2 separate regions of the Homo sapiens genome follow, and region 1 is linked to region 2. Evidence: fine-mapped expression QTL. A gene starts in region 2. The other region holds a variant in brackets. All regions are shown on one strand. Distances are from middle to middle. Region 1 overlaps EMC1 (ER membrane protein complex subunit 1). Region 2 holds the start of EMC1 (ER membrane protein complex subunit 1).

Region 1 (3,016 bases), 25 kb before region 2:
TTTTATATCCCAGTGTCTAAATGAGTGCCTGCATCCAGCTAGCACTCAAAAACTGCTTGCTGCTGGCCGGGTGCGGTGGCTCATGCCTGTAATCCTAACACTTTGGGAGGCCAAGATGGGAGGATTGCTTGAGCCCAGGAGTTTAAGACCAATCTGAACAACACAGCAAGACCCCATCTCTAAAGAAAATAAAATAAGTGCCTGGGCACGGTGGCTCCCGCCTGTAATCCCAGCACTTAGGGAGGCCAAGGCGGGCAGATCACGAGATCAAGAGATCAAGACCATCCTGGCCAACATGGTGAAACCCCATCTCTAAAAATACAAAATTTAGCTGGGCATGGTGGTGCGCGCTTGTAGTCCCAGCTACTCGGGAGGCTGAGGCAGGAGAATCTCTTGAACCTGGGACGTGGAGGTTGCAGTGAGCCAAGATCGTGCCACTGCACTCCAGCCTGGTGAAAGAGCAAGACTCCATCTCAAAAAAAAAGAAAAGAAAGAAAAGAAAATAAGCCATGGTGACATGCACCTGTTGTCCCAGCTGCTTAGGAGGCTGAGATGGGAGGACTGCTTAAGCCCGGGAGGTCAAAGCTGCAGTGAGCTGTGATCACACCACTGCACTCCAGCCTGGGCAACATGGCAAGACCCTGTCTCAAAAAAAAAAAAAAAGAGTCAATAGCACTAATAATAATGTTAAGTATGTGGCAGGCACTATTCTAATCACTTTACATGTTATCATTAATCTTCAAAACAATCCTCTGACGTTGGTGCTATTATCCCCATTATACTGGGGAAAATTGAAGCTCAGGCAGCCTAAGAGATGAACAGCTAGGCCACGGCAGAGCCAAGTCTTAACAGTCAAACTAGAGGCTTGCACTGTGTTGCACTGGCTCATGCTTAGTGATCCAGCTTTACCGTCAAGTTCCGTGATCTCTATTCTATGACACCCCCTCCAATTCAGTCTCTGCTGTACCAGAGGGTGTAATTAATGTGCATTACTACTATCATTACATTCTCTCCCATAACAGTTTTGCAGCCCACTAGTCACCTTAATCTCCCTCTCTTTAACACTAACTAGAGTGTTGGATCACAGAGATGGAGTTTCTGATGGCTCGACTATGGTTTAACCCCAGAATGCTCTATCAGTACTACCACTAGTAATAAGAGCTGGGCTAGGCGCAGTGGCTCAAGTCTCTAACCTCAACACTTTGGGAGGCTAAGGTAAGAGAACTGCTTGAGGCCAGGAGATAGAGACCAACCTAGGCAACATAGTGAGACCCTGTCAATATAAAAATAAAAAATTAAAAAAAAATTTTTTTTTGAAGACAGGGTTTTACTATGTTTCCTAGGTTGATCTCTATCTTCTACAAAAATAAAAAATTTAAAAAAAATTTTTTTTGTTTGTTTGGAGACAGGGTCTCACTCTGTCACCCAGGCTGGAGTGCAGCGGCACAA[T/C]TGCAGCTCACTGTAGCCTCAACCTCCCCAGGCTCAGGTGATCCTCCTACCTCAGCCTCCCGAGTAGCTGAGACCACAGGCATGCACCACCATGCCCAGCTAATTGTTTTTTTTGTTTTTTTTTTTTGGGGGTGGTAAAGACAAGGTTTCAGCCATGTTGCCCAAGCTGGCCTCAAACTCCTGGACTCAAGTAATCCACCCACCTCGACCTCTCAAAATGCTGGGATTACTGGCATGAGCCACCAAGCCCAGCCGTTTTTAAAAAATTAGCATGACATGTGCCTGTGGTTCCAATTACTTGGGAGACTGAGGTGAAAGGATTGCATAAGCCCAGGAGGACGAAGCTGCAGTGAGCCATGACTGCATCACTGCACTCCAGCCTGGGCAACAGAGCAAGACTCTGTCACAGGAAACAAACAAACAAAAAAAAAGTCAAAAAAATAAGAGCTAACATCTGTTGCTTACTTACCATATGCTAGGCACTGGGCTAGACATGAACATCCCATGTGATCATCACAACAAGCCCAGGAGGAGGGTATATTATCCCCATTTCACAAACAAAAATTAAGGCTCAAAGGGATTAAATGACTTACTCAAGGTCATATATGTACCAAGTCCTACAGCCAGACTTGAAGCCCTTGTTTTCCTGATTCGAAAGCCCTTGCTGTAGACCAGACAGCTGGCTGTATGTACCTTGTAGAGCACACTGCGGTCCCCCATCACACGGCCCTGGGAATGAACGTGCTCACTGCTGCGTTTCCCCTTCACCTTGACGATCCGCTGTACTTCTGGGGGAATGGTCAGCTCCCAACTCAGCTCAGTGGTGAGATCCTAGGGCAGGGGCAAAAAAGCCTGTAATCAGGAGGGTACACTTAGAACTGAAACAGCTGGAGTTAGACACATCCTACAGTTCATTATTTGAGGCCTTTGTGCAGGAAGGAATAGAGATCAGAACTAGAAAAATGAGCCAGGAGCAGTGGCTCATTCTTGTAATCCCAGCACTTTGGGAGGCCAAGGCGGGCGGATCACTTGAGGTCAGGAGTTCAAGACCAACCTGGCCAACATGGCCAAACCCCATCTCTACTAAACATACAAAAAATTAGCCAGATGTGGTGGCAGGCACCTATAATCCTAGCCACTCGGGAGGCTGAGGCAGAGGCTGCAGTGAGCTGAGATCACGCCACTGCACTCCAGCCTGAGTGACAGAGCAAGACTCAAAACAAAAAATAAACCAGAAAAACAGCAATAGAGATCTAGTTTATGAAGAAATTTCAGAACTCTCGGTTTGATTAAGATAGATACTAGACCGGGCGTGGTGGCTCACACCTGTAATCCCAGCACTTCGGGAGGCCGAGGCAGGTGGATCACCTGAGGTCGGGAGTTTGAGACCAGCCTGACCAACATAGAGAAACCACATCTCTACTAAAAATGCAAAATTAGCCGGGTGTGGTGGCGCATGCTTTTAATCCCAGGTACTCAGGAGGCTGAGGCAAGAGAATCACTTGAACCCAGGAGGTGGAGGTTGCAGTGAGCCGAGACTGCACCATTGCACTCCAGCCTGGGCAAC
Region 2 (2,500 bases):
GTAACATACACATATGACATTGTGAACAGTTGTGCACATCATTAAAAATGTAACATGTTTTATTTGTCACACTGTCTGGCATAACAGGTACTCAACATATATGCGAATCAACTTTTCCAAGACAGAAAATACTTCAGAGGAGGAGAAATCTGACCTGGGCCCTGAAGAATAAAGTGTAAATAGCAATAATAACAGATAACGCTTAATGACTGCATTCAATGAGCCAGGCATTGTGCTAAGTAATTTAATGGGATTGTCTCATTCATTCTCACAAGTACTGTAAGAGATAACGGACTGTTAGTAAACCCATTCTACAGACAAAGAAACCAAGGCACAGAGTGGTTAAGTCACTTTCCCCAAGATCACACAAGTCTTAACTAGTAAAATTCAAACAAAAGCAAGCTACTCCAGGGCCTTAAGGAAGACGTGGGTGGGTGAATGAATGAATGAGTGAATGGCATATTCTAGCTGCTTAGTGTTTTGGGCAATCCTGCTGTGAGCCCAGGGCCAGACTAGGTTGATGAGAGGGGAAAAGGACTCAGTTTAGGACTTTTAAGACGAAAGCTCCTGTTCACTTGCCTACAAGACACCAATTCGAGTAGGAATTAAAGTTCACTGACAGCTTGGCGACCTCTGACACCTGGTAGACCAGAAACCTCACAGTCAAAAAAATCGAACCTGACGAGGGAGGACGGGATCAGTGATCTCTGACCGGCACCCCAAGCATTCCTGGATGGCAGGGCCGGCTTACACGCAAGGATCAGCTTAGAATGACCCCTAACACTTGGTTTAAGGCTCTGCTTCCAACGACTTTAAATCCTTAATAATTTTTTAACAAGGGGCCCCACGTTTTCATTTTGTACTGGGTCCTGCAAATTATGCGGCCAATCCTGTTAAGTGACAACCTTTAGCAGGTAGGAGACAGGTACTGGGGAAACAGCCACTTATCTCTCGAATATGTTCCACACGTACGCACCAATCAAACTTGCCCACTTGGTCTTCGTAGACCGCGGCCGCAGGAATCAGCAGCGTAGCCCAAAGCCAGAAACGAGAAGCCCACTCAGCCGCCATGATGCGAGCGCATGCACCACCCACCGCCGTCCCGGCATGCACCGCGCCGCGGGCTCCGCCTCCGCGGGACCACAGAGCTGGGATAGCGCGCGAGGCCCTCGGTCGGACGGGACGCTCGGGATTCAGGGACTGCCTCGGCACACGGGAAGTTGCCCTACAGGCGCGGGAGAAAGCGCAGGCGGCGGCTTGGCAGGGAGAGGCAGGCTGCAGTGCACATTGGGTCAGGCACACGCGAGGGGCAGCCCCCGAGGGCCGTCCCAGAGTCCCCCGCGCCGCCGGGGTCCTAACGGGGTGCACCGTCTTCCGCCGCACGTGGATTCAGCGCGATGCCCAAATCCAAGCGCGACAAGAAAGGTGGGCGAAGGGGGAGTCGGGACCCTGGGGGGAGCTCCGTGGGCTGGCTACCCAGCCTGCGGTGAGGGCTTCGGGGCGGCGGGGGCGCAGATTGGAACGCCAGGACATCCTCGAGGTGTTCCGCTGCCTCGCTGCGAGCTGGAATGGGGGCTTCGGGGCTGTAAAACCGCCAGAGGTGGCTGACGCCCGGTCGGGTCTGGGGAGCGGAGACTCGTTTTGCCTAGTTTCAGGTGCTCTTGCAAGGCCAACTGGGTCGGGAGGCAGCTCCTGAACACCGCCCCCGGCTATGCCTGCTGCCGTTTCGGCCCACTTTTCCCAACTTCGGCCCTTTCTCATCTTCCTGCGCTCCCGCCACCCTGGCTGCCTTTCCCTTCTTTCAGCACAGGTTTGTTCCCGTGTCTGGCGTTGTGTGTCTGCGGTTGTTTCTGCCTGGCATGCTTACATCTTCGTATGGTTTGCGCCTTCTTAGTTGTCAGTTAATAGGATCCCTCTGAGACAGGGTCTCGCTCTGTTGCCCAGGCTGGAGTGCAGTGGCGCGATCGTAACACTGCAGGCCGGATGCGGTGGCTCACGCCTGTAATCCCAGCACTCTGGGAGGCCGAGGCGGGCGAATCATCTGAGGTCGGGAGTTCCCGACCAGCCTGGCCAATATGGTGAAACCCCTTTTCTACTAAAAATACTAAAAATTAGATGGGCATGGTGGCAGGTGCCTGTAATCCCAGCTACTTGGGAGACTGAGGCGGGAGAATCGCTTGAATCCGGGAGGCGGAGGTTGCAATGAGCCGAGATCGCTCCACTGTACTGCAGCCTGGGCACGACAGAGCGAGACTCCGTCTCAAAAATAAATAAATAAAATAAGTCACTGCAGCCTTGACCTCCTTGGCTTAAGCGATCCTCCCACCTCAACCTCCCGAGTAGCTGAGACTACAGGCGCACGCCACCACACCCAGCTAGGTTTTTTTTGTTTATTTTTTATAGAGAAGACTCAGTGTGTTGCCAAGCTGGTCTCGAACACCTGGGCTCCAACCACCCTCCCTGAGTGCTGGGATTACAGGCGTGAGCCACTACACCCGAC

Evidence for each region.
Region 1: its variant is fine-mapped to the expression of EMC1 in whole blood (TOPMed, PIP above 0.99).

The regions. Positions count from the first base shown.
Region 1 is chr1:19,225,171-19,228,186 of GRCh38, forward strand. EMC1 (ER membrane protein complex subunit 1) reads right to left here. Exons shown (of 23, transcript NM_015047.3): 18 at 2,143-2,280. All of the region lies in intron 1 of EMC1-AS1 (EMC1 antisense RNA 1), which reads left to right. Among named protein-coding and RNA genes, the nearest start is that of EMC1-AS1, 16 kb to the left of the region's middle. The variant T/C (reference allele first, on the strand shown) is at 1,450.
Region 2 is chr1:19,250,439-19,252,938 of GRCh38, forward strand. EMC1 (ER membrane protein complex subunit 1) reads right to left here and starts at 1,086. Exons shown (of 23, transcript NM_015047.3): 1 at 977-1,086. The coding sequence starts at 1,071. MRTO4 (MRT4 homolog, ribosome maturation factor) reads left to right here and starts at 1,367. Exons shown (of 8, transcript NM_016183.4): 1 at 1,367-1,425. The coding sequence starts at 1,398. RefSeq lists an enhancer at 999-1,504.